Homo sapiens: one gene and its partners. The protein of the gene in region 7 interacts with the protein of the main gene of each other region in a pairwise test. Each region holds a gene or a part of one and is shown on either strand. Other genes may lie near its edges. The genes, in order: ETV4, EIF3J, TNNT1, NFAT5, LEF1, REL and NFE2L2.

What was found.
Region 1: the proteins of NFE2L2 (region 7) and ETV4 interact in binary tests that used the Homo sapiens proteins (3 or more experiments, as listed by UniProt).
Region 2: the proteins of NFE2L2 (region 7) and EIF3J interact in binary tests that used the Homo sapiens proteins (3 or more experiments, as listed by UniProt).
Region 3: the proteins of NFE2L2 (region 7) and TNNT1 interact in binary tests that used the Homo sapiens proteins (3 or more experiments, as listed by UniProt).
Region 4: the proteins of NFE2L2 (region 7) and NFAT5 interact in binary tests that used the Homo sapiens proteins (3 or more experiments, as listed by UniProt).
Region 5: the proteins of NFE2L2 (region 7) and LEF1 interact in binary tests that used the Homo sapiens proteins (3 or more experiments, as listed by UniProt).
Region 6: the proteins of NFE2L2 (region 7) and REL interact in binary tests that used the Homo sapiens proteins (3 or more experiments, as listed by UniProt).

What each region holds. Positions count from the first base shown.
Region 1 is NC_000017.11:43,532,507-43,536,667, forward strand, and holds part of ETV4 (ETS translocation variant 4), read right to left. Parts: exon of another isoform or gene 3,974-4,161; coding exon 3,920-3,973; coding exon of another isoform or gene 3,906-3,919; intron 1,480-3,905; coding exon 1,353-1,479; intron 843-1,352; coding exon 681-842; intron 434-680; coding exon 168-433; intron 1-167.
Region 2 is NC_000015.10:44,557,647-44,561,807, reverse strand, and holds part of EIF3J (eukaryotic translation initiation factor 3 subunit J), read right to left. Parts: coding exon 4,158-4,161; intron 1,560-4,157; coding exon 1,486-1,559; intron 791-1,485; coding exon 659-790; 3' UTR 1-658. UniProt on the Homo sapiens protein: Component of the eukaryotic translation initiation factor 3 (eIF-3) complex, which is required for several steps in the initiation of protein synthesis.
Region 3 is NC_000019.10:55,135,414-55,139,574, forward strand, and holds part of TNNT1 (troponin T, slow skeletal muscle), read right to left. Parts: intron 2,662-4,161; coding exon 2,548-2,661; intron 1,800-2,547; coding exon 1,690-1,799; intron 1-1,689. UniProt on the Homo sapiens protein: Troponin T is the tropomyosin-binding subunit of troponin, the thin filament regulatory complex which confers calcium-sensitivity to striated muscle actomyosin ATPase activity.
Region 4 is NC_000016.10:69,572,213-69,576,373, reverse strand, and holds part of NFAT5 (nuclear factor of activated T-cells 5), read right to left. Parts: intron 1-4,161. UniProt on the Homo sapiens protein: Transcription factor involved, among others, in the transcriptional regulation of osmoprotective and inflammatory genes. Binds the DNA consensus sequence 5'-[ACT][AG]TGGAAA[CAT]A[TA][ATC][CA][ATG][GT][GAC][CG][CT]-3'.
Region 5 is NC_000004.12:108,162,166-108,166,326, forward strand, and holds part of LEF1 (lymphoid enhancer-binding factor 1), read right to left. Parts: intron 4,137-4,161; exon of another isoform or gene 4,116-4,136; coding exon of another isoform or gene 4,107-4,115; intron 2,999-4,106; coding exon 2,932-2,998; intron 1,537-2,931; coding exon 1,403-1,536; intron 1-1,402. UniProt on the Homo sapiens protein: Transcription factor that binds DNA in a sequence-specific manner. Participates in the Wnt signaling pathway. Activates transcription of target genes in the presence of CTNNB1 and EP300.
Region 6 is NC_000002.12:60,925,913-60,929,342, reverse strand, and holds part of REL (proto-oncogene c-Rel), read right to left. Parts: 3' UTR 1-3,430. UniProt on the Homo sapiens protein: Proto-oncogene that may play a role in differentiation and lymphopoiesis.
Region 7 is NC_000002.12:177,236,773-177,240,933, forward strand, and holds part of NFE2L2 (nuclear factor erythroid 2-related factor 2), read right to left. Parts: intron 1-4,161.

The DNA of each region.
Region 1 (4,161 bases), on a different chromosome or scaffold from region 7:
AGAAAAAGAAAGAAAAATAACATTCTTTTGAAATTATGAAGAAAAAAAGTGGGTGGGTGGGTTGGATGTATGAAATGGTAAACAGCAATGTAAAAAAACTCGGGAGACATTCTGGGCTTAACTGAACACTTGATCACATGCCACCCTGCCCCACCCCAGTCTCTTACCTGAGTCGTAGGCGAAGTCCGTCTGTTCCTGTTTGATCACCACCCCCGCCCCTGGGTACCTGTGCCCATTGACCCCACCCTGGTCCACGGCTGGCTGGCCCGCCTGTTCATACAGGGGATCATGGTATTCTTGCTTAAAGCTCTGCTGGGGATAGGGTGGGCAGGGCTCCGACAGCTGGTGTTGGTAGGGGGCTGGGAGGGGTTCCCGGCCCCCTCCCTGAGATGTGAAGGAGTGGCAAATGTCCAGGGGCTGCTGGAAGACGGAGCTGGATGTGGTTGGATGGAGAAGGAAGAGAAGAGAACTTTAAATTAATCCTTCCTCGAGCCTGTTACTCCTAGGCTTTTAGAGTGGGCTCCGGAATGGGGGGTAGGGGGTTGGGGTGTCAGTATTTCTCCCTTTCTATTCCACTGCCCCCTGCCTCTACCACCCCACAGCTCAAGTCTTTATGGAGAACACTCAGGAATTGAAAAAACACCTGGGCCCATGAGCAGTGGGTTTCCCTGTCTCCTTACCTATGTTCCCCGAGGTACCCATGGCCAGGGTGGGGCTGGGAGGTGCCAGAGGATCTCAGGAAATTCCGTTGCTCTGCCCGGGGAAAGGGCTGTAGGGGCGACTGTCCAAGGGCACCAGGGGCAGGGGACTTGATGGCGATTTGTCTGGGGGGGTCATAGGCACTGGAGTTGAGAAGGAGACAGGGGTGAGGGGGCAGAGAAGCTGGAAAGCATCTTTGAACCCTTCATTCCTAGGAAAGCGAGGTCACAGGGATTACAGGAGAAGGAAGGATAGAGGGGGCTGAGAAGGGAACGGCAGGAGCCACAGACTCAGCCCTAGCCAATTCTTTTCTTTTTCAGAGACAGTCTCCCTCTGTTGCCCAGGCTAGTCTTGAACCCCTGGGATTCATACAGGGGGGATTTGTTGCTCAGAGCAATGGTTTAGGTGGGACAGTGGGCCTCTTGGTGGAAACAGAATCTGCTCTGGCCTCAGTATATATTCCTGAGGCCCTCTGCTGCGTTTTCCGTCTATTCAGAGGAAATCCTTAGCTGTATTGCTTCCTTACAAGTGCTAGAAAATCCTTTCTGTTGTCTAACTTGCATCTCAGCTGCTGCCTCTGCTCATGGGTGCCCCCTGCCTCCCTCCTCTGGAACCCTTCTCCTACCCTTCACCAGGTCCAGGCTGGGGCTCACCTGGAGTAAAGGCACTGCTCGCCATGGTGGTAGGGGAGTGGCGGCTTCCTGCTGCAGGACAGGGCCGGGTCTGTGCGGGGACTCTGGGGCTCCTTCTTGATCCTGGTGGTGGGGCTGTGGAAAGCTACTGTGGGGGTGGAGGGGACAGAGCAAGGCCAGAGCCTGTCACACAAGAGGCAGGCAGGGCTTCTGATACCTTCTGAGCTTTGAGGACCAGCTGGGTGACTGGTACAGCCTCCTTCCCTCTCTGGGTATCAATTTTCTGAGACCCGCAGTGAGACAAGAACATTTTGGCTATTTACATTATGTCTAGTTTATACATCAGACTAGTGTCTGATTATTGACTAAATAAACCATCTAAAGTTCAACATTTAGGCTGGGCACGGTAGCTCACACCTGTAATCCCAGCACTTTGGGAGGCAGGAGTCCAAGACCAGCCTGGCCAACATGGTGAAACCCTGTCTCTACTAAAAATACAAAAAAAAATTAGCCGGGGATGGTGGCGGATGCCTGTAGTCCCAGCTACTCAGGAGGCTGGGGCAAGGGAATTGCTTGAACCCAGGAGGCGGGGATTGCAGTGAGCCGAGATCATGCCACTGCACTCCAGCCTGGGTGACAGAGCGAGACTCCGTCTCAAAAAGAAACAAAAAACAAAAACATTTAATGCAACCCCAGGCCCCAGAAAACACTTTCAAGGAGTGAGCACCTCCAACCTAGGGCCTGTAGTTTTCCTGAGTGCCCTGGAAAATTCCAGGGGAGTGACATGTTTTCTTATTTGAGGATATAAAGAATCTTTCTTGGCCGGGCGCGGTGGCTCACGCCTGTAATCCCAGCACTTTGGGAGGCCGAGGCGGGCGGATCACCTGAAGTCAGAAGTTCAAGACCAGCCTGACCAACATAGAGAAACCCCATCTCTACTAAAATACAAAAAAATTAGCCGGGCGTGGTGGCACATCCCTTTAATCCCAGCTACTCGGGAGGCTGAGGCAGGAGAATTGCTTGAACCTGGGAGGCAGCGGTTGCAGTGAGCCGAGATCACACCATTGCACTCCAGCCTGGGCAACAAGAGTGAAACTCTGTCTCTAAATAAATAAATAAAAGAATCTTTCTTTTTCTGGTTGAGGTTGGATATTGGCCCACTTGAATGTCAGCTGACTAACATTATACACATGCTCCTACTTATCTGTGAAGAACACTGGCCTTTCCTGTGGCCCCTGCGGGGTTCCCAAACTCTGGCCACGAGGCTGAGCAGCAAAGAGTTGGTTCCAAGCCGGTGTGAGATTCAGTTTTAACCGCAGTCCAGTCAAATGCCGTTTGTAACCAACTATTCTCTGCTGTTTTTGATTCTTTGTGCCCCATTGTTTCACTGGTGAAGACAGTTGACAGCAAAGTATCTGACATTAAAGCAGGGTTTGTTTTTTGGTTTTTGTTTTTTTTGAGATGGAGCCTCGCTCTGTCACCCAGGCTGGAGTGCAGTGGCTCAATCTTGCCTCACTGCAACCTCCGCCTCCCAGGTTCAAGCGATTCTCATGCCTCAGCCTCCTGAGTAGCTGGGATTACAGGTACACGCCACCATGCCCGGCTAATTTTTGTATTTTAGTAAAGACGGAATTTCATCATGTTGGCCAGGTTGGTCTCAAACTCCTGACCTCATGTGATCCACGCGCCTCAGCCTCCCAAAGTGCTGGGATTACAGGCGTGAGCCACCACACCCAGCCTAAAGCAGGGTTTCTCAACAGTGGCACTACTGACCTGTGGGCCAGATAGTGTTTTATTAATAATATTGTAAGGAGCGGTCCTGAGCATCATAGGATGCTTTTAGCAGTATCCCTGGCCTCTCTATCCACTAGACACCAGTAGCACCCCACCCTCAACTGTGACAACCAAAAATGTCTACAGATATTACCAAATGTCTCTTGGGAGGCAAAATTGTCCCCAGTTTATGGAAGTGACTTAGAATACTAGAACTGGGGGCGGGCGCACTGGGCTCACGCCTGTAGTCCCAACACTATGGGAGGCCGAGGTGGGCGGATCACAAGGTCAGGAATTCGAGACCATCCTGGCCAACATGGTGAAACCCCATCTCTACTAAAAATACAAAAATTAGCTGGGTGTGGTTGTGCATGCCTGTAATCCCAGCTACTCTGGAAGCTGAGGCAGGAGAATGGCTTAAACCCGGGAGGCGGAAGTTGCAGTGAGCCGAGATTGTGCCACTGCACTCCAGCCTGGGTGACAGAGCAAGACTCTGTCTTGGGGGGAAAACAAACAAACAAACAAACAAACAACACTAGAACTGGACTCTGCTGAACTGGCCCAGGCCCCTCACTTCAGATATAAGGCAATGGAGAACCAGAGGGATAGTGTCTGCTCTAAGGTCACACAGCAAGAACATGTCAAGCCCCAGATTTCAACCAAGGTTTTCATTCCAGTTATTGCCTTGGTCTTTAAGATCAAACCCCACTGTGTTTTAGGAGAGAACAAGCTGCTCTCTTGTGATTCTCTATCCTATGACTCACTTCCTGCCATCCTCCACTCCCTATACCCTCTCCCCAGGGACCTCTACTCACGGTTTTCTGAATGGAAATCAGGAACAAACTGCTCATCACTGTCTGGTACCTGAGCTGCAGAGAGAAGTCAGAGGTGAGTTTGGGGCGGAGCCCTGGTTGTCCCCTGGGAGGCTCCATTATTACAGCCCTGCAGATTAGCAACAGCCAAGAAAGGACCAACAGCCTTTAGATCAGGGGTGTCCACATTGTAAGAATTGTCTTGGGCCACACATAAAATACACAAATACACTAACACTAACGAT
Region 2 (4,161 bases), on a different chromosome or scaffold from region 7:
ATAACTAGACAGTCTTTGCACTCGAGAGATTCCACAACATGTAATGCAATAATGGAAAGGTTTACCTTCTTTAGCTTCAAAGTTGGAGGGTTTTGGTCATTTTAATTTTATATCAAACTAGTGCTTTTCAGCCGCAGTATCTTCACTCTGAGATAAGCAGTCTTCTTCACAATGTATTTTTAATATCCTCATGTTCAATTTTAAGACAAAGCAATTTTAATACTAGGTGCACACCACATGCCCTTGCTGCAAACTGCTTTTCTTGACAAGTTATGAAGTAGTTCAAGGAGGTATGGTTAAGGCTGTATTACTGAATGGTGCTGGTAAATACTACACAATTTTTTTTGTCACGTTGCAACCTTTTGTTTCCAATTTAGTGACTGCTGCTATGAAATCAGATAGCAACAACGACAACATTATTAGGTTTTGAACTATGATTTAGTAGCAACTTAGGTTCCCAATTTTAACCCCTTGGCAGCAAGATCCAAGTTCCCTCATTTGCACATTAGCACCTAAGTGTCAAGGGGTTAAATAACCAGCACAAAAGATACTGCACTTCTGATTGTAGCATTTGGCAGAACTGAAAGGAAAGGAAGTTGTGCTACATGTTCAAGGGATTGTGGGCAACATAAAGATGACACCAAGAAAAGATAAAATGTCACATGAAGTCTTCATAGTCTTGTACATATCCTCCATCATAACCACCATAATCTGCCAGATCATCTTTCATGGTGGCTTTTAATCCCCCTCCAGGAACCACACCTTTCTTCTTCTTTTTGGCTTTGCTTTGCTAAAGATGAAAGAGAGTTAATTCATGAACCTTAGTGTGCTATGGGCATCTTATCTGGTACAGCAACCCTCATAAACAAACACACAAAAACCTTTGGTCCCAGAAACACTAGTTCTGTAAGGGACATCCGAGCCTACATGTTTTGGACCTGAACAGGTCTCCCAGAGTCAGTCTCTCCAAAACTTGATCTGGGTCCTTGGTCCTGCTCTGGATACCTAGCCCACCAGCAGGGGTTATAAGTTATTGGTAGACAGCCTTAACTTCACTGAAGCAAATTTAGAAAAGTGTGGATAAGTACCCCCCAATTTAAAATCACAAAGCTCTAACCTTTACTTGACATACTTCTCTTACTTTACTCTTATAAATACTCTGCAAAGTGAGTATTATTGTTCCTATTTTAGAAGGGAGAAGACTGAAGCTTAGAAAAGCTGATTTACCTATACCTATTAAGTAGCAGTGCTAGTATTTGAACCCAGTCTGTGATTTCAGCAATTTCTATTAACTCAGAAAAGGGGAACATGTCTGGAAACAAAAGGACAGTAATAGCACCCATACTCCTCTTCTAGTCTAACTTAAATGGTATTAGTGAGTTGCTTGACTTTTAATTAGGACAGGCTCCTATTATATTTGTTGACTGTTAGACCTATAACCCCACTCTAATTTAATACCCATTTCCCTACACAGCTTGCTCTTACCTTTTCTTGCTTCTGTTTTTCACTGCAAAGCACAGTCAGTGAATTGGTAATTTTTTTCAAGTCATCAATTTCCACTTAAAAAAAAAAGGGCATACCATTAAACTTGAATTTTTAAGCATTTTGAAAAGTTAAAGCTAAATATGTACATTCCATATATATCTATATATCCCAAAATGTACATTCCAAAAGTGTTATGAGAAATCCAATTTGTTCATTGTTAAACTTCAGTAACTTTGAAAGGACCATGAATTTCTCCTCTTTAAACGTAAGGTGGCCGGGCACAGTGGCACATGCCTGTAATCCCAGCATTTTGGGAGGCCTAGGTGGGTGGATCACTTAAGCCCAGGAATTCGAGACCAGCTTGGGCAACACAGCTAGACCCTGTCTCTTGAAAACAAAATTCATTTTATTTATAATGACGACCTGTAATCACCAACACACCATTGCTCAACCAAAGAGAAACTGTCTTTATAGCTCACAATGCTCCCTACTATCCTTCCTCAGTCTAAACAAATGGGGGAGGATAACATGCCCTTCCATTAACACACCCCCAGTAATCAGGGAGAACAGACAAATAAACATGAAATGACAATTACTATTATTTTTTTTTTTTTTTGAGATGGAGTCTCACTCTGTCACCCAGGTTGGAGTGCAGTGACGCGATCTCGGCTCACTGCAACCTGCGCCTCCCGGGTTCACACCATTTTCCTGCCTCAGCCTCCCGAGTAGCTGGGACTACAGGCGCCCGCCACCATGCCCAGCTAATTTTTTGTATTTTTAGTAGAGACGGGGTTTCACTGTGTTAGCCAGGATGCTCTTGATCTCCTGACGTGATCCGCCTGCCTCGGCCTCCCAAAGTGCTGGGGTTACAGGTGTGAGCCACCGCACCCGGCCTATTTTATTTTTTTTTTTGAGACAGAGTCTCGCTTTGTCACCAGGCTGGGGTACAGTGGCGTGATCTCGGCTCACCACAGCCTCCACCTCCCAGATTCAAGTGATTGTCCTGCCTCAGCCTCCCGAGTAGCTGGGATTACAGGTGCGTGCCACCATGCCCAGCTGATTTTTGTGTTTTTTTTTTTTTTTTTTAATAGAGATGAGGTTTTACCATGTTGGCAAGGTTAGTCTCAAACTCCTGACCTCAGGTGATCTACCAGCCTCAGCCTCCCAAAGTGCTGGGATTACAGGCATGAGCCACCACGCCCGGCCAGAATGACAATTCTTAAACCTACAATGACAACACCCTATCCCATGATGTCTCCATTTTCTTGCACGGGAACTACAATGAGAACAGTGACCATCTCTATGTCCTACCAAGAAATAGTCCTGTTCAGTGGACAGCATTATCAGCCTTATAAAAATATGAAGCTGGAAAGAGACACCAGTTTTTAGCTACCAGAAAGTGTTCAGTTTTGGTTAGAGAACACCTCCAAAAACCAGAAAAAAATTAGTACATGCAGAATAAAATATCAACTCTGGGCACATTACCAATCAAATGTAGAACCCTCAGCTTAGTGATAATTTATCAAAGAAAACCCAATTCATTGTGTAGGATTCCTTTTTCTCCATCTTAAAAACTGCAAATAGGCTGGGCGTGGTGGCTCACACCTATAATCCCAGTACTTTGGGAGGCCAAGGCAGGGAGATCACCTGAGATCAGGAGTTCCAGAGCAGCCTGGCCAACATGGTGAAACCCCGTCTCTACTAAAAATACAAAAAATTAGCCGGGCGTGGTGGCAGGCGCCTGTAATCCCAGCTACTCAGGAGTCTGAGCAGGAGAATTGCTTTTTTTTTTTTGAGACGGAGTCTCACTTGGTCACCCAGGCTGGAGTGCGGTGGCACGATCTCAGCTCACTGCAAGCTTTGCCTCCCAGGTTCATGCCATTCTCCTGCCTCAGCTTCACCTTGTTAGCCAGGATGGTCTACAATCTCCTGACCTCGTGATCCGCCTGTTTTGGCCTCCCAAAGTGCTGGGATTACAGGCATGAGCCACTGCGCCAGACCAGGAGAATTGCTTTAACCCAGGAGGCAGAAGTTGCAGTGAGCTGAGATCGTGCCTCTGCAATGCAAGACTCCATCACAAAAACAACAACAACAAAAAAACTGCAAATACTAGCAAAACCAGTCCCTTCCATACATTCCTGCTTCACCACCCATGGCTGTCACTCCCATTCACCCTGCCCTGAAATGTATGACTCCTATCAAGGTGTGGCACCACAACCACGGACCCAGAGAATAGGTGCCAGCCCTGTCACTCAACTTGCACCCTGTCTAATTCTGATTTGTAAAAGACAGTGGCTGAAGTCTCACCCAACCCAAATCCTACAGTGCCAGAGACCTTTTCCCTCAAAAGATACTTCCCAGCCCCTCTCAAGTGATAATCAGATAAAAAGAATAGGCCAGTGTTTTATTAGCTGCTTTGCTGACAAGCCCAGGTATCTCTTAGGGAAGCCATTGTAAAACAAGAAGTCCTCTTACCCCTACAAACAAACAAAAAGATCCAGCACTCAAATTCACTGTATCTGCAGAACAACATTCACAAGGTAATTGCTAAAAACAGCAAATCATGAGTCTGTATTATAGTATCCTTGAAAATAAAAAATAACCTTCAACCTCCTGAAGAGAACATCCTACTAAAAATCTACCCAGAGGGGCTAGAAATTAGAATTACTTACATGA
Region 3 (4,161 bases), on a different chromosome or scaffold from region 7:
CTTTTTTTTTTGATAGGGTCTCACTTTGTCACCCAGGCTGGAGTGCAGTGACACCATCACAGCTCACCGCAGTCTCAACCTCTCAGGCTCTAGTGATCCTCTCACCTCAGCCTTTTTTTTTTTTTTTTTTTAAGACAGAGTTTCGCTCATGTCGCCCAGGCTGGAGTGCAGTGGTGCCATCTCGGCTCACCGCAACCTCCGCCTCCTGGGTTCAGTGATTCTCCTGCCTCAGCCTCCAGAGTAGCTGGGATTACAGGCGCCTGCCACCACGCCCGGCTAATTTTTGTATTTTTAGTAGAGATGGGATTTCATCATATTGGTCAGGCTGGTCTCCTGACCTCAGGTGATCTGCCCGCCTCAGCCTCCCAAAGTGCTGGGATTACAGGTGTGAGCCGCCGCGCCCGCCCGGCCAACAATACTTTACATGAACCATGTGCACAGGAAGGAGGGCCCACAGCGCCCCCCAGAGGGCTTCCAGGAGCCTGCTGTGCACATCCTTTCCCGTCTCCACACTCAGTGTCCCCACACGGGTAGTTTGAAAGGAGCAAGGTGGAAGTATTTACGCCCTGGGAATGGGCATGTGCTAAATCTAGACATTTTGCCCCCTGGAGAGCAGCTGTTAAACATTTACCATGAAGCCACTTTACAGCACACTAGCAAAGAGTACGGACTATTGCACCAGACTGCCGGGTTCAAATCCCAGCTCTTCCACTTGCTAGCTGTGCAACCCTGGAAGGGTTACTTAACCTCTCTGTGCCTCAGGTTCCTCACTATTAACACAAGGATAATAATAGTATCTACCTCACAGGGTTGTAAACCCTCCACAGGAAGCTGCTGCTGTAATTATTATTTTTTTAAGGATGGGGTCTCACTACATTGCCCAGGCTGGTCTCCAACTCCTGGCCTCAAGCAATCCTCCCATCTTAGCCTCCCAAAGTGCTGGAATTACAGGCATGAGCCACCGGGCCCAGCCTGTAATTATTATTACTATCTCACTGCCCTTTCACAGCTCTGTGAGGTCAATTTTGTGATTATATCCTTGTTCTGCCAATGAGGAATGGGAGCCCCAGAGAAGTCAGATAACGTGCGCAAGATCACAAAGTAGCCGGCAAAGCTGGCACTGAGCCCTGGGCAGGGGCTTTCGGTGCAAGCGGCAAACCCGATCACGGCGCCACTCTGGGGTGGTTGAAGTTTCTGAGCCACAGCCCAGGCCAGAGAACATGGAGAAACAGGCGGGCTCCTGAAGGCAAGCCCCCACCAGCCTGCCGTCCTGTAGCTTATCATGAGAGGCAGGCTGTCTTGGCTATAGATGCGAGGGACTCAGCTGGAAAATTCTCACCCGCATTCCTGGCTTGAATTTAGGTAAAAGGCACAGCCCATCCTGAGCTCCAAGGCACATCACGGAGTTAACAAAATCTCCTAAACTTGGGGGAGGGAAGTCATCTTGTCTGGCTTCCTTGGTAACACCTGTCAGATGCTACAGGCCACGGCAGCCACGAAAAGTGGGTTCAGTGACATGTTTCACAAAGAAGGCAGCAGAGGCCCAGAGAGGGGAAGCCACTTGCCCAAAGTCACATAGCACTGGAGCTGAGACCCGGAGTATCTGCCCACCCAGATCTGGGTGTGAGCTCCTTTATCCCCCTGTCTCACACCCAGGCCCCTACACCCCGAGCCCCCCACAGCACCTACCGGAGCTGTTCCTCCCCCATGTAGTCAATGTCCAGAGGCTTCTTACGCTCGGAGAGGATGCGCACCTTCATCTCCCGCCCCGTCTGCCGCTTACCACGCTTCTGTTCTGCCTGAGGGTGGGGGAGGCGGAACAGTAAACTGGGGGCCACATCCCACAGAGCACTGCCGTGTCGGGACCCACACGTCGGATCCCACAGACCATTTCCATGTTGGGACCACAGGTCTGCACCCCAGGCCCATCTCCTTCAGACCTAGGAGTCCAGCCCCACTCCCTCCTCCCTCAGATTCAGGAGGAGTCCAGACCCCCAGTCCCTTCTCTTAGACTGAGTCCAAGCCCCAGACCCTCTCGCATTAGGAACCAGAAGTCTGGCCCCCAGCCCCTCCTCCCTCAGCCCAGGAGTCCAGACCCCAGCCCCTCCTCCCTCAGACCCAGGATTGCAGGCCCCGAGCCCCTCCTCCCTCAGACCCAGGAGTGCAGGCCCCCAGCCCCTCCTCCCTCAGACCCAGGAGTCCAGGCCCCCAGCCCCTCCTCTCAGACTGAGTCCAAGCCCCAGACCCTCTCGCATTAGGAACCAGAAGTCTGGCCCCCAGCCCCTCCTCCCTCAGACCCAGGCGTCCAGGCCCTCAGCCCCTCCTCCCTCAGCCCAGGAGTCCAGGACCCCAGCCCCTCCTCCCTCAGACCCAGGCGTCCAGACCCCAGCTCCTCCTCCCTCAGACCCAGGAGTTCAGGGCCCAGCCCCTCCTCCCTCAGACCCAGGAATCCAGGCCTCAGCCCCTCCTCCGTTAGGAACCAGAGGTCTGGCCCCCAGCCCCTGCCCCCTCAGAACTCAGACCTCAGGCTCCTGCAGGCTGACTCACCTTGACCAGGTAGCCGCCAAAATGGGCCCCCATGTTGGACAGCACCTTCTTTTTCTTGGCATCATCCTCTGCCCGCTTCTTGGCCTCTTCCTCTTCCTTCCTCATCTTCTCCTCCTGTGGGAAGTAAGGGGTTAACCTCATGGACTCCCCTGTAGGACTGAGGGAGGAGGGCCCTGGGATGTGGAACTGGGGCACAGGGATCAGCAGACCCAGTGCCGCAGAGGCTGCTGGGACATCAGAACCAGCAGAAACGCAGGGGTACCCACTCCCGGCCCTGCCACGTCTCCCCGTGTGACCACCTACAAGTCCCTTCCCCTCTGTTTTTTTTTTTTTTTGAGACGGACTCTCGCTCTGTTGCTCAGGCTGGAGTGCAGTGGTGCGATCTTGGCTCACTGCAACCTCCGCCTCCCGGGTTTAAGCAATTCTCCAGCCTCAGCCTCCTGAGTAGCTGGGATTACAGGCACCCGCCACCGCGCCCAACTAATTTTTGTATTTTTAGTGGAGACGCGGTTTCACCATGTTGGCCAGGCTGGTCTCAAACTACTGACCTCAAGTGATCCGCCTGCCTCGGCCTCCCGGAGTGCTGGGATTACAGGCGTGAGCCACCGCACCTGGCCCCCTTCTCTGGGTCTTAATATCCTCCCAGAAAAAATCGAAATGAAGGAGAAGAAGAAATGCCTGCTTTTTCTGCATGTCTCCACCCTGAAATAGCCGATAGTGAACTCTGCTGTACGACCTCACTCCAGATGCTCAGCCTGTCTGGGCCACAGTCGCCCTTAGTCTCAGGATATGAGAATGTCTGTTTTGAGGGGGTCAAGGGAAGTAACTGGTGATAAGACCAGGGACTGGGGAGATTAAAGAGGCTGATGGCCTTGAGCCTGAGGAAGGGGTTCTGGAATATTGAGCGAAGGCATTACGACATTCGAGAAACTCTTCATTGAATGTTCCAGAAACAGTGGTTTGTCCAGGCTGAGCCCCGTCTCCTTATGGTGGACATGAGGCTTTTTGTACACCCAGCACTCCGTACCTGAATTAGTTTCCTTTCTGTTTTTGAGATGGAGTCTCGCTCTGTCACTCAGGCTGGAGTGCAGTGGTGCAATCTCTGCTCTGTTCACTGCAACCCCCACCTCCTGGGTTCAAGTGATTCTCCTGCCTCGGCCTCCCAAGTAACTGGGATTACAGACATGTGCCACCATTACCAGCTAATTTTTGTATTTTTAGTACAAACAGGGTTTCACCATGTTGGCCAGGCTGGTCTCAAACTCCTGGCCTCAGGTGATCCACTTGTCTCGGTCTCCCAAAGTGCTGGGATTACAGGCGTCAGCCATCGCGCCTAAACTTAGTTTCCTATCACTGCTGTAATTTGCAAATTTAGTGGCAGAAAAACAATGCAGATTTGTTATCTTACAGCTCTGCAGATCAGACATCTGAAATTGGTCCCCCTGGGCTGGAATCAAGTTGTGAACAGAACCAATTTATTCTGGAGGTTCTAGGGGAGAATTCATTCCCTTCCCTTTTCCAGCTGCTGCCTGCATGTCTGGGCCCATGGACCTTCTTTCATCTTCAGAGGCAGCCATGCAGCATCTTCAAATCTCTCAGTCTGACCCTCTGGCC
Region 4 (4,161 bases), on a different chromosome or scaffold from region 7:
CCATCTGAACAATGGTGTAATCTTATTAGGGCCCAAAGTATAAATGCCAATTTCAAACGTTCTTTTTTTTTTTTTTTTTTTTGAGACCGAGTCTCACTCTGTCGCCCAGGCTGGAGTGCAGAGGCGCCATCTCCGCTCCCTGAAAGCTCCACCTTCCGGGTTCAAGCCATTCTCCTGCCTCAGGGGACTACAGGTGCCCGCCCACCACGCCCAGCTAATTTTTTTGTATTTTTTTAGTAGAGACGGGGTTTCACCATGTTGGCCAGGATGATCTTGATCTCCTGACCTCGTGATCCGCCCACCTCGGCCTCCCAAAGTGCTGGGATTACAGGCGTGAGCCACCGAGCCCGGCCTCAAATGTTCTTACTGACTGTTAAGACAGTCAATATAATCTCACAGCTCTGGGGTAAAACTGGTGAAGTTCAAATTCCAGCCTCATCCACGAGATATGTGCCCTTGGGAAAATTAGTAGATCCCTCTGTACCTCAGTTTGTTCATTTACGAAATAGGGATACTGGTACTACATCGCAGGATTTTTCTAAGAGTTAAATGTGAAAAATATATGTAAAATGGTGTTAAACATAAACTGCTTGACATATAAATTGCTCAAAAAAGGTTTTCAATTATTACTAACACTGAATTTATTCTTTTGACTAGCATGTCCTACAAAGATTGCCTCAGGTACAGTTTTTTTTATTAAAACTAAATTTTTTTCTTCTCTTGCTTTATTTATTTATTTTATTATTATTATTTTTTAAGACAGGGTCTTGCTCTGTTGCCCAGGCTGGAGTGCAGTGGCATGATCCCATGATCATGCAGGCTCAATGCAGCCTTGACGTCCTGGGCTCAGATGATCCTCCCACCTCAGCCTCCTGTAAAACTAATTTTATAAAGATAAGCATAATCAGCCAGGCCCAATGGCTCACACCTGTAATCCCAGCACTTTGGGAGGCTGAGGCGGGCGGATCACCTGAGGTCAGGAATTCAAGACCAGCCTGACCAATAAGGTGAAACCCTGTCTCTACTAAAAACACAAAAATTAGCTGGGCATGGTGGTGTGCACCTGTAGTCCCAGCTACTCATGAGGCTGAGGCAGGAGAATTGCTTGAACCCAAGAGACGGAGGTTGCACTGAGCCCAGATCGCACCACTGCACTCTAGCCTAAGCAACAGAGAGACTCCGTCTCTAAATAAATAAATAAATAAATAAGCATAATCAACAACTTAGCTCACTATTAGAAACTTTTCTGTTCTTCTCTCATCTTCAAAACTAAATACCAAATTCAGTAAAAGACTAATCACAGTGTTTCCTGAATGAAAAAGAAGTGATAAACATTCATGGGTGGGAAGCAATAATGATCATTACCTATTTACCACATAAATGTTAAAAATAAAAGAGAATGGGCTGGGCACGGTGGCTCATGCCTGTAATCCCAGCAGTTTGGGAGGCTGAGGGAGGCAGATCACCCGAGGTCAGGAGTTCGAGACCATCCTGGCCAACATGGTGAAACCCCATCTCTACTAAAAAAATACAAAAAATTAGCTGGACATGGTGGTGCGTGCCTGTAATCCCAGCTACTTGGGAGGCTCTGGTGGGAGAATTGCTTGAACCTGGGTGACAGAGGTTGCAATAAGCCAAGATTGTGCCACTGCACTCCAGCCTGGGTGACAGAGCACGACTCCGTTTCAAAAACCAAAAAAAAAAAAGAGAAAAGTATATATTTTTCAAAAGCTATTAAGAACAAATAAAAGTAACTGAACTCTCATGTAACAAATGTTTAGTTCAAATGATTAAATATATATATCCTTTATTACATCAAGTTTATTTATTCTGAAAGCTAGATCCATTATCTGTAGTTAACTCATAGAGGAAATCTCTACCTTTTCACTCAAGTACATAATTATCATTGGTCTTATACTCTGTTAGTTTATTTAAACTTGACTTTTATTAACACAAAAGCAAACAGAAGACACAGCAACCTTCTTTGCGTAACTTGAAATAAAATCTTAGCAACAGCAAGAAAAGACAATAATACAAATTAATAAGCAACATTTCTATTGAAAAATGTCTTTTACCTCTCTAAAGTTAAAAGGTCTATATCCTATGCCACTGAATAATCTTTATTTTTTTCTAGTTACCTGTTACTCTTAATATAAAATATACTCTGAGGAGTCAACTTTTTCATATAAAAAGTGTCTGTTTTGGCCGGGCGCAGTGGCTCACGCCTGTAATCCCAGCACTTTGGGGGGCCGAGGTGGGTGGATCACCTGAGGTCACGAGTTCGAGACCAACCTGACCAACATGGAGAAACCCTATCTCTAATAAAAATACAGTATTAGCCAGGTGTGGTGGTGCGCCCTTGTAATCCCAGCTACTTGGGAGGCTGAGGCAGGGAAATCGCTTGAACCTGGAGGTGAAGTTGCGGTGAGCTGAGATTGCACCATTGCACTCCAGCCTGGGCAACAAGAGCGAAACTCTATCTCAAAAAAAAAAAAAAAAAAAAAGTGGCTGTTTTTTATATATAATACTAATCACACTGGGAAATGTTTTTCTGTACTACCACTTTGAAATTTTAGGGGACTCCTGGAATAATCAGAGTCAAGAGTAAATTAAAATCAGGCCAAGAACCACTGGATTAGAATATGAATTTATATCCTTTTATTTTAAATAAGCAATAGAATTCCAGTATTGAGTGAAAATAATGAAAGCAGAGTTTAGGAAGGGACACAAAAACAGGTGGTAAGCAATCAGAAAGAGATGGATCTAAAGACAAGAAGCTGGGATGAACTAGGTATGACTTTTGACATGTTTGAACTTCATTATTTCCATAATACTTTTAGTTTACTAGACATGGATCCACAGAGATTATTAGATACTAAACAAGAAAAGAATTCAATAGATTATTTTTCATGTTAAATGTTTTCAAAAAATCCTTTCCAAAAAGGTATCTTTGTACATAAAATATTATAGGCATTTATGATCTATGATATAACAAGGGCCCTAGGAAGAAATATAAATCAGAAATATTCTATAAAGTCAATAAAACATTGCTACTATGTTTAGGATTTTCCATTTTTGCACTATGAAGTATAATTCTGGATGGTACCATATCAAATAGATTAGCAGTAGTAAAAAAAAAATCATAGTTTATTTTCTCTTAACTCATTGTCATATTTCACATTTTCTTTTAAAAATCTTCCGGTCTTAAATGTTTAATTTAAACAAAGATTGTGGCCGGATGCGGTGGCACATGCCCGTAATCCTAGCACTTTTGGGAAGCCATGGAGGGTGGATCATGAGGTCAAGGGATCGAGGCCACCCTGGCCAACATGGTGAAACCCTGTCTCTACTAAAAATACAAAAATTAGCTGGGTGTGGTGGCACGCGCCTGTAGTCCCAGCTACTCAGGAGGCTGAGGCAGGACAATCACTTAAACCCAGGAGGCAGAGGTTGCAGTGAGCTGAGATCATGCCACTGCACTCCAGCCTGGCAACAGAGTGAGACTCTGTATCAAAAATAAATAAATAAATAAATAAATAACAAAGATTATATCAGATCAGCATTTAGCTCTTATTTAACCAGTTCTTTCATTTGATATATAATCTCTTAACTCATGCTTTTAAAATCATTAAAATTGTTAAATCTATTGTTTATATTTATCTATTTTTCCAATTTGTTTATACTCTTATTTTTCCTGTTTTATCTATGATTTTTCTATAATCTTATATTTCTCTATTTCTAGAATGATTCATTCAGTTTCATTTCTATCTTAGTTTTTCATTTGCCAAAATGAATAGTTTTCATTATAGAATGTACAACAAATGGTGCCTTTTCTCTGCAGCTGAATTTTTTTCCCAGGCACTTCAAAAAGGAATCCTAGCCTTCGAATTTGAACTTACTAATGGCAAACAATTTTATTTAAAAAAAATATATAAACCATGTTCTTTAAAGATGGAAAATACAAAAATAGAATTGAAAAATAGAAAATCAGTGATGTATACTTTTGTTCAGGATTTTTGTAACACAAGTTACTTTGAATATAATTGTAACAGCATAATTTTTATTTACTTATTTTATTAAGAGTGTCACATGTTAATTATGGGGTTACCAGAAACATCATTTAATGGCCATGTATTATAACATTAATTAATTAGCCAGGAC
Region 5 (4,161 bases), on a different chromosome or scaffold from region 7:
CTTAAAATAAAATATGAAATACCTATTTCTTACAGCAACCATCACAAGATCTCCCTCAAGATTAGAACCCCAAGATCTCCACTTTAACTACTATATAAAAATTAGAAAAAGCTTATTCCTTAGCTGAGAGATCAAATATCCTTTAGCAATTTATTGGAAAATAATTACAATAACATCTAAATTGCAGTGCTCAAAGTGATCATATTTGATATAAGTATCATTTCAACAACTGAAGATTATGTGTAATGATAACCACAAATACTCTTGTTGATAACTGTTGATTTTGAGCCACTATTCTCTGCTAGTGAATCTTCTCACTCCCAGATTTTGTTCACTAAGGTATTAACAACGTTACTCTTCCCAGATGTTTGTGACTGATTTTTTTCAGTTGGTAGAAACACTGGGCAAGTAAGTCAAACACTATAGGTTCCATTTTACAATCTGAGATTTGACCTCCAGGGCTGTCAGTGAGACTGGAACCCTAATCCCCGAGACCCATAGACATGTGTTTTTCATTGGGGGTTAGGTGATAAAGGGAGAGTGGGGCTGGAGAGAAGGTAAATATATTGATGGGTCAGTAAAAAGTCCGTCACCAACGCTGGTGGGCTAATTCTAAGAGAGAACTCCATCACCAGCACATTTTACATCTACATACTACACAAGTTACCATTTAGGTATTTTCTCACTTAAATGAGGTTTCCACTTCCTAAGAGAAATATCATCAAATAAACCTGAAATTCTTTATAATGTTATGCATTTGCATAATGCAGTTATAATACCACTGCATTTTTAGAATTTTAAAAGTTAACTAAACCACAAGATTAAAAAAAAAAGGAACAACTTTCATTAGGGTTATCTTTGAGTGATGCTTTCTCAACAATTGACAATAAAGCAAAAATAACTCATCCCCGCCAAACCGATCCTAAGGAAACATTGGCCGATACAATAAAACAAGACACCATTTGAAAAGCCAAAGTAACATAACAAACATTCAGCTCCAAATGAGCTAAAGTAGCTCTGATTCTAGAAAGCTTGTGGGCATTAAAAGCTATACAGTCCTTACTTAGCTGAAAAAGTAAATCAATTTTTTCCTCTCATCAGCATAGAATGCACAATACTCATAAAATCAGGGATTTGTTGATGTAACTTCACTTGATTTTATAACTTATGATCTGTTACATATTTATTTTAATCAATAAGCCAAAAGCTAAAATTTCAAAGGCAAGACATCAAAGGTAGCACTGTTTTAAGGTGGCCATTCCTCATAACAGCTCTTATTTAGCAACGACTAGTTATATATAATGAAAGCATTACCAATGAGTTTGGAAAAATAAACATTCTGCCAAAATACAAATCAATTTGCACTTCTGAACATAATTTGCAACATCAGCATGTTACTTACTGTTCTCGGGATGGGTGGAGAAAGAGATCCATTTGACATGTATGGGTCGTTATTCATATTTGGCATCATTATGTACCCGGAATAACTCGAGTAGGAGGGTCCCTTGTTGTAGAGGCCTCCATCTGGATGCTTTCCTGGGAAGATCCAAAGAACAATCAATGATGCACTGACTTCCCTTTTATATTACTGTATTTTTCATCTGAAAATCTAATAGTTCTAAGATAAATCAGACCCTACATAAAAGATTTGTTTACAAAATACTGTAACTGGATTATTATGCTCTATTTTAGATTGACAGTATTTATTCTCTTAAATAGCTTAGCAGCAAACCAGATGTTTTAAAAACATGTAGTTCAAACAGTTCTTCCACTACTGACTGATGTTTTTACAAAAATAAGTGTTATCCATCTAACTTAATTTGTTCTAATACTAACAAACTGGACTAAAATATACAGAACACACACAACTTTAAAAATGTAATATAAATATATTAGGCCATCTAGCTACACACAAACACAGAGATTTATACACTTGAAATTATGTTTTGCCTTGTAGACAAACTCAAAGATTCTACCTGTGCTTGCAGATTTCTAGAAAAATTTCTAGATTCTACTGAAAGAGTTGTTATCTAGTATATAGGCAACTATCTAAATTTATAAAGGATTAACTCTGGGAGGCTTAATTTTATGTGCTACACTTAGATCATTTTGCCAAAAAATTTCTGTTCGATATGTGTATTTCTTCTTGTTAATCTGTGTAACTATCTTGTAGCTGAGGAAGAAGCCTAATATATAATTCTCTTCCCTGCTCCTGGTTGACATATTGTATGTAAAAACACTTCATTTCAGTTAGGCCAATTGTTAAGTAATTAATGGAAAACAGATAGGCTGACAAGAAATCCCTAAGGTTACTTGATTCTTTTAAAGTCACAAAGAATTCTCCTTAAGTCTAAATACATATGTATGTAATTTTAAAGTTTTTAGCAAGAATCAGAAATAGGGAGAAAGGGTATCATTTCTGATATGCACATTCCTAATTATAAGTTTTATATTTTTACAAGTTAGATTCTGCTCTGCTCATTTACTGCCGGCCTTTTCACTGTAATAAGGAACAAGAAACAGCAATTTTGCAAGTGAAAATCCACTCAAAACTATTCTGGTTGGAAAATAAATCGATATATACTGTCGTTCTTCTTAATAATATATTAAAAATACTAAAGATCTAAGCTAATTAGGATTTAAGGTAAGATGAGGAAGAGAAAAACTCATTGTAGACATTCCCTCTTCCCAAAGAATCTGGAACCCACCTGAAATCCAAGGGTCCCTAACTCATTCAAAAACAGTTTTTAAATTATGTAATATATATTAGAGGTAAGCCATAAGTTTCCTGCGTTTTCTTTACCATTAAAATAGTGGGCATAGTCTGACCTAGTCCCAGTTTCTTGAACTCAAAAGTAACAAAACACACCTATTTATACAAATTGCACCCCTTATCTGCTAAAGTCAGAAGAAGTAGAATGGGTGTCTTACCGTCATCGGGGTGTTCTCTGGCCTTGTCGTGGTAGGGCTCCTGAGAGGTTTGTGCTTGTCTGGCCACCTAACATCATGAATCCCCACACCCAAAAGAAAGAAAATCACCTTAGAGTTTGTGACAATAATGGTACAAATGTGTGTGCGCTGGTAATTCAAAGGAAGAGGTTTAGGGGCAACTCTGTTTTATACTCTGAGAGACATACGCTAGTGTTTAGTACTGCATAATCCTTTTCTTGTCAACATGTATTTTTGAGTGATTATTATCCACCCGGGACCAAAAACGTATAAATAATAACAAAACCAATAAAAATATAGTTAAATTTGGGAATGATCCACATGCTGTTCTGACTGCTGTTTATTAAACCATATCAAGGCTCCTTGGATGCCTAATATTACAGGAGTAGGAGTTAATGGGGTTGATGGTTTCGATAGCCTCTTCAACCACTGTTCACTTCAATCAGATCTGATTAAAAGAAGGCTGAAATATCATTTTGCAACTGAAAATGGCATTTAAACATAAACAAGCCAACCACTCAGATGCGGTCTTAAGGCAACTGCCCTGAGCGCAGTTACAGCAGAAGCTCCACTCGAGCTTATAACCTACTATGGCTGGCTGAGTGCAGGCTTACAAAAGTAGAACGATTCTGTGGTTAAAGGGAGGAAAATTAGAGAGTCAGGTTATAGACATCTAAAAGGTAGCCCAGTTGATATCAGTTTTGGTAATCACCATCCACCCAGACAGCCTCAAACACGTGCAAATCAGTGGTATTACTCCTTCACCCTCAGGCCTCCTCATGCCCACTTAACACCCGAGTGCTCTCGGATTCGAACGCAGTGTCCTTCACCCGGACCAGAAAATTGTGGAGAATATGAAGTGGGTGGCAAAATTATTTATGGACTAAGGCAGGACTAGCAAAATGGGTAGAAAGAGAGGCTGCTCTACAAATAGGAGAGTTTGGCAAAAAGCCTGTGTTTTGGATGTTATTCGGTTCTCTGGACGTGTGTCCTCCCTTTGACCTCCTTTTCCCAGCACACAGTAGTCACAAATCTTTTACGCGGGGTTAGGTGCACCCTACCCCCGCCCCCAGCCCGCTCAAACTGGATTCAACGGGTAAAGAACACCATTCTGTTCTCTGAACGCAGGCCCCCAGCCTTTCAAAATTCGTACTCACCTCTGCCATTGGGATAGAGAAGGCAGATCTGAGGTGTTCTTAAACGCGCTGTTTA
Region 6 (3,430 bases), about 120 Mb from region 7:
TTATAGTCCTTTGGGTATATACCCAGTAATGGGATGGCTGGGTCAAACGGTATTTCCAGTTCTACATCCCTGAGGAATCGCCACACTGACTTCCACAATGGTTGAACTAGTTTACAGTCCCACCAACAGTGTAAAAGTGTTCCTATTTCTCCACATCCTCTCCAGCACCTGTTGTCTCCTGACTTTTTAATGATTGCCATTCTAACTGGTGTGAGATGGTATCTCATTGTGGTTTTGATTTGCATTTCTCTGATGGCCAGTCATGATGAGCATTTTTTCATGTGTTTTTTGGCTGCATAAATGTCTTCTTTTGAGAAGTGTCTGTTCATGTCCTTCGCCCACTTTTTGATGGGGTTGTTTTTTTCTTGTAAATTTGTTTGAGTTCATTGTAGATTCTGGATATTAGCCCTTTGTCAGATAAGTAGGTTGCGAAAATTTTCTCCCATTTTGTAGGTTGCCTGTTCACTCTGATGGTAGTTTCTTTTGCTGTGCAGCAGCTCTTTAGTTTAATTAGATCCCATTTGTCAATTTTGGCTTTTGTTGCCATTGCTTTTGGTGTTTTAGACATGAAGTCCTTGCCCATGCCTATGTCCTGAATGGTAATGCCTAGGTTTTCTTCTAGGGTTTTTATGGTTTTAGGTCTAACGTTTAAGTCTTTAATCCATCTTGAATTGATTTTTGTATAAGGTGTAAGGAAGGGATCCAGTTTCAGCTTTCTACATATGGCTAGCCAGTTTTCCCAGCACCATTTATTAAATAGGGAATCCTTTCCCCATTGCTTGTTTTTCTCAGGTTTGTCAAAGATCAGATAGTTGTAGATATGCGGCGTTATTTCTGAGGGCTCTGTTCTGTTCCAGTGATCTATATCTCTGTTTTGGTACCAGTACCATGCTGTTTTGGTTACTGTAGCCTTGTAGTATAGTTTGAAGTCAGGTAGTGTGATGCCTCCAGCTTTGTTCTTTTGGCTTAGGATTGACTTGGCGATATGGGCTCTTTTTTGGTTCCATATGAACTTTAAAGTAGTTTTTTCCAATTCTGTGAAGAAAGGCATTGGTAGCTTGATGGGGATGGCACTGAATCTGTAAATTACCTTGGGCAGTATGGCCATTTTCACGATATTGATTCTTCCTACCCATGAGCATGGAATGTTCTTCCATTTGGTTGTATCCTCTTTTTTTTTTTTTTTTTGCAGAGACAGGTTTTCCTTATATTACCCAGGCTAGTCTTGAACTCCTGGGCTCAAGCAATCCCCCTACCTCGGCCTCCCAAAGTGCTGGGATTACAGGCGTGATCCATCCACCATGCCAGTGCCCTGCTCCATGTCTCTCTTAACATGGAAACCATCATGAGTTTTCCTGAAGTATTAGGTTAGACGTTGACAACCCAGCTGTTTCTGTTCACTATGGTTGTGAGAAGCCCAGTTATTTAAAAGGCCATTAAGATTGAAAATAGATTTAGAGGTGTAGGTACAGACTGGGAAGGGGCATGAAGGAAATTTCAGGGGTGCTGGAAATGTCCTAAACATGGTGGTGACATGGGTGTTAACATACATAAAAATTAATTAAGCTGTACATTTAAAATTAGTCCCCTTTATGCATTTTACTCTACATGTGTTATCCTTGCAAAGAAAAAGACTGACATCTTTGAGAGCAAGAGTTTTTGTCTTATTCACCTCTGTATAATTTCCAACATCGTGCTTTGCACATTGGACATTCAAAAAATGTTATACAAGATTGACTGCATCAATACTGGAGTGTTGTGTGAGGGTTAGGTGCTGAGGCTGAGAAGTGTATGAGGGAGACCTGAGATTAAACCTGCCACATAAAGTGGAGAGAAGTAGCAAGGTCAGGGCTATGAAATAATCCCAAAAACTTTAGAATTTCTACATAATACAGTTGACACTACTATTCTCAATAGAGCTGCTTTCAGTCTCAAAGGGCTGTGGTATGTGTGCGTGTGTGTGTGGTAAAAAAGGGAAGCAGCAGGTCAAGGAAGAGAAGTGTTATTTCACAAGACTTAAGTAATCTTGTCATTGCTGCTTTTCCTGCCAGAAAATCATTACCTTTCCCTTTAAAAATCATTTCCATATACATTTTACTAACTCCCATGTCAATTTCACCCTTCCTTTTCTAATAATAGCTACTATTTATTCAGCACCAACTAGTATACTAGGGACTATGCTGGGTGCTGGAGTCCCAATGACGAAAGAGACAAACACTTAAATAAGAGGATGTCCGTAATACAGGCATGTACAAAGCTTCACCTCAAGTAAGGAGGCAGGACCAACCTTCATACAGAAGCCCAGCCTTCAAGGATGAGTGTTCTAGTTCCAGAAGAGCAGAGGCAGAGTGGGTAACATGCTAAAGGTATGGAGGCCTGAGAGAATTGTTTTTTTTCAAGGAATGCTAGCTATGTAATAAGGAATAGGGAGAACATGGTATTTTAACTGGAACATATGGAAAAGATTATTACTAGGGAAAAAAGAATGAAGGCCTTTACTAAGAAGGCAGCAGGAATTAAGAAGGGACATATTCAAGAGGAGACAAGCTCAAAAGGACTTGATGATTAAGTATGAGTGTGATGGAGAAAAAGAATACAATACTTTGAGGTTCCTAGTAAGTATCTTGGGTGGCGTGGTAAATGGTAATGCCATTATGGAAGGTAAAGAAGAGAGCGAGCCAGTTTATCAGGACATTCAGGTAGCATGAAAGAAAACTGAACCTGTGGGCTCTGATAAGATCATCGGAGGGCGGGTAGGGGGAAATAGCACCAACTGAGGGGAGGGGTCAAGACTCATGGGAAATAAATCTCAGGGAGGAATCTTGACTACCACAGAAAACCCAGAGGAGTATGCAAAGAGGGAAGTATAGGAGGTTATACATAGGTCAAGCAGTGTGAGGACTGAAAAAAAGACACTAGATTTGACAAGGCGGGCAGTCTCCGCTCATCTTTCCCAGAATATCCTAAGAAAATTGTAGGAGCTAAAGACAGAGATGGCTGGGCTAAGGAATAACTGGGAAGGGAGAAAATGGAGGCTGGAGGCATTTCAGAAGTCAGGATGCAAATGCATCCAAGTGGTAGGAAAGGTTTTATTTGGTCTTTCCTTTTAGGCTAATGAAGACATTTACCATGTTTATACAAAGAAAGGAATCACTAAGTGGTGATGTAAGGATAAAGTAAACACAGCCTGGCAGAGAAAGGAGGAGGGATCCAGTGCACAAGTAGAGTTCAGAAAAAGTGCCTCAGATACTAAAAGCAGGTGTTAAAAGAGCAGGTGAAAGCATGAATATATGTAGAGACAGAGGAGAAACGTTACCAAATTCATTTTAAATTAAAGTCTATACAGGGTCAAAAAATAGCACCTGAAAAATGAAAAATCCATTGGGAATATTCTACACACAGAGGTAGCAGAACCTTAATTCTGCTTACA
Region 7 (4,161 bases):
GTAAATGCTGTGTAAATAGTTGTTATACTGTATTTTATGTGTGTATTGTTATTTTTTCGGGTTTTTTTTCCACTTTTTTCCTTTTGAAATTTTATTATTTATTTACTCATTTTGAGATAGGGTCTCACTCTGTCACCCAGGCTGGAGTGTGGTGATGCAATCATGGCTCACTGCAGCCTTCACCTGGGCTCAAGTGATCCTCCCACCTCAGCCTCCCAAGTAGCTGGGACTACAGGCACATGCCACCAAGCCCAGCTAATTACTTTTTGTAGAGATGGCGTCTTGCCATTTTGCCCAGGCTGGTCTTGAATTCCCGGGCTCCATTGATTTTCCTGCCTCAGCTTCCCAAAGTGCTAGGATTACAGGCATGAACCACTCCACTGTGCTTGGCCTTTTTCCAAATATTTTTGAACCAATCTGCCATTGGTTGCATCATGGAACCAGAGGCTGCATGGGCCGACTGTATATACACTTGGCTTTGGAATCTTGGTAGTATGAAGCGGCCAGTCTGCAGGTCAGATTAAGTCTGTAGGTCACCTAGATCAGTTTCCTGGCCAAGAGCAACAAAATAGCAACCACAGAGCATTCAGTCGACTATACATGGCTATCTTCTCAGGGGGATTCCCACTAAAATAGGTATGAGAATAATTTCTATTTTAAAAAATGATTTGTTTCCATTCTGATGGACATGTTTACCCAAAGGTTATCATGGGAGACAGAAAATTCAAAGGTATAGAGAAACCTACTTTATTTTATTTTTTTTTGAGACGGAGTCTCGCTCTGTCGCCCAGGCTGGAGTGCAGTGGCACAATCTCAGCTCACTGCAACTTCCGCCTCCAGGGTTCAAGCAGTTCTCTCACCTCAGCCTCCTGAATAGCTGGGATTACAGGTGCGTGCCACCATGCCCGGCTAATTTTTCTATTTTTAGTAGAGACAGGATTTCGCCATGTTGGCCAGGCTGGTCTCGAACCCCTGACCTCAAGTGATCTGCCTGCCTCGGCCTCCCAAAGTGCTGGGATTACAGGTGTGAGCCACCACGCCCAGCTGAGAAACCTACTTTAAAATTCTGATTAGCTTGGGCCGCTTCTTCTCAGTAAATCTAGATACATAGCAGGGTATCCTGTCTAGACTTTCTGCAAACTGGAGCTATCTGCCCAAGCAAGGTATTAAGTGTTCAATATGTTCCCATCTTCTAGGTACTAGCACCAAAAATGAAAGGAATGCATGATCCTGCGATCTTAATTGAACTCTGTAAAATAGGCAGTCCATGTTCCCACCCATCTCAAGAAGTGATGTGCAAAGTGTGCAAAGCTCTTTGCAAAGTCAATCAAAGAAACTCAAATACTTGTCCCTGTACGTGGGGAAAAGTGTACTTTGACACATCCCTGCCTCACCCTAGACTTCCTGGGCCTGAGGTTTTTTCTTGTTAAGGAGATCCCAGGATAAAAATCAGTAAAAGGTTGTGACTTTTTCATGCAACTGAAGCAATTTAGGTTGCAAACATCTTCTGCTCATAAATCTGACTTGCAAAGTATCCTTACAACCAACCCTCATGAGCTGGAAGAAAATATTGAATGGAATTTATAATTGTCAGTGTCAATCATGCCAAGAATTGAAATAACTATTTAATTTCCTTTCCCCCCCTTTTCCTTCCCATCAGATGATAATATTTGAGGGGTTTGGATGGCTTTAGCTATACATTGTTTAATTATTCCATCCTACCCAAGCATACAGATGTTAGTGGATCAAATGAGGCACGTGAAAAGTATCTCTCTATAAATGTAAAATATGCAAATGTTTACATGTTGACAGTGATAGGCTCTACTACTTGCTGTATAAGCGAGACCAAAGTCCAGGCCAATGGATAATAATGAGGTTGTGGACCTAACTAGGGGGAGCCTAAAATAATGTTGGGACTACCTAGATGGTCAGAAAGAATGAGCCAATTAACTTCTAAAATCATGGACAGCTTCATTGCTTGGTTCTTCCTCAGGGCAGGTCTGAATTAGACTACTATTAACATGTTGTAATAAAAAAGGATTTTGATCTCAGAGATTCTGAATTATTTACAAATAATAAAGCAAATTAATAAGCAAATTAGAAGTTTTAGTGGATATTGCTCTTGATGGTGGTTTTGTTACTGTTGGTGGGGGTAATGGTGATGGCAGTGGGCACGCCCATATACATTTGCATACACTCTAATATAAATGTTTACAAACATACACACACACACATTCAATTGCCACTCAATTCCTGCTGTGAGTACCCTTCAATGGACAGCTCCAAACCAATTCAATGTTTTTTATTTGAATTTCCCTTGACATGACCAGAAAAAGACATCTTTATGAATCCTTATCAACAAACAGGAAAAATAAGACATGAAGCATTATTTAGACTAGCTCTTGAGCATCCTGTTCACGTTACCTGAAACAATGCTGGACCCTGGGAGACTAAGCAGCTCCTGCGGCCCTAGCTTACTGTCTCCACCAAGAATGCCACCAAATGACATCTAATTGCTCTTCATTAGGCTGGGGGACATTCAGTGCAATCGTAATAGGACCAAAATAGGTTTCAAAGTGTTCTGAAAGGTTTTCCTGTGTATTTTTAAGTTTATATTTATGTGGCCAGGCATGGTGGCTCACGCCTATAATCTTAGCACTTTGGGAGGCCGAGGCGGGCAGATCGCTTGTGCTCAGGAGTTCGAGACCAGCCTGGGCAACATGGTGAAACCCTGTCTCTACTAAAAATACAAAAATTAGCCGGGCGTGGTGGCATGTGCCTGTAGTCCCAGCTACGTGGGGGACTAAGGTGGGAGGACTGCTTGAGCCCAGGAGGTCGAGGCTGCAGTGAGCCAAGATCGTGCCACTGCACTCCAGCCTGGGTAACAAAGTGAGACCTTGTCTCAAAAAAAAGTTTATGTAATGTTTTTTCTTGCTATGAGAGGTCTCAAAACAAAACAAAACAAAACTGCTTCATAAAAGAAAAAAGCTAAATTTGAAGCAACTATTTTGGATTCCCAAAAACAGACATCTTGATCAAATTTAGAATGCAGCAACAATAGGTTTATTGTTATGGCCTTAATGTCATACTCTGTGCTACTCAGATTTTCACATCTGTTTCAGCAGGCAAAATCCTGCAGAGATTTGATACTGTATGAAACATTCAAAGCTTTATGTTAAAAAAAAAAAAAAAAAAACAGCAGAAGTTAACTGAAGACTCACTGTTGGGGACCACAAGCTCACTACTGTATTTTGTGCTAAGCTAATATGCACCAACCATTTCCTGTAAGGAGCCGTGTGACTGGGCACATGATTTATTCCACAAATGACCCAGCTCTCTGCAAGGCTCACACATCATCTAAGAGGAAATAATCGTCTGGGTGGAGCCCATAACAAACAAGAACATGACACTGGACAGGAGGAAAGGGAAGTGCCTAAGGAAGAACTAAAACTGCTCTTCTGCACAGAAATCCAGGGCTTTGAGGAAGTGCAAGTCCCCCATGGAGGAAGGCCACAGTACAAAGTGTTAGATAAGTAGGGTTTGGGTAGAGAGAGGAAAGCAGGTAGATGGGTTGCACAGCACTGCACAGATACTTTCTTACAACGGGTGAGAAAGCTTCCCAAGGGCCATGCGAGCACTGGCCAGGAGCCTTTGCATGGCATATGGAGCAAATGCCGTCTGCCACTTGGTGTCTGAATTTTTTTTGCTCTTGTCCTTTAGTGATTCCTGAGTGTGTTCCAAATTATGTTGCTAGCTTGGCTTAGACAAAAGAAGACAATTTGATAAGAAACACAAATGTTGGACAATTCATGTTAAATCACCATCTGGCCTAACAGAAATATTCATGTTTAAAAAATATATATCATCATTTGCCAACTGGGTAATCTGTTACACATTTTAGGGAAATCTGAAGTTGGACAATTAACTCATACCACTTTAAAACAAACATCTTTGTACCAGGATAAACAAAGAAGAAAGGACTTGAACACAGAATCCATATTAAATATGTCTTTTGCAAGTCAATTTTAGTGCCTTGAATAAACCAGCATCTATCATGCTTAGATGATCCAAAATATTGGAAAAGATAAAGCAAAGATAATACAATCCCTGTCCTAAATTAAAGCTATTCAGTAAACTGAGACAAAGTATTTGAAATGAAAA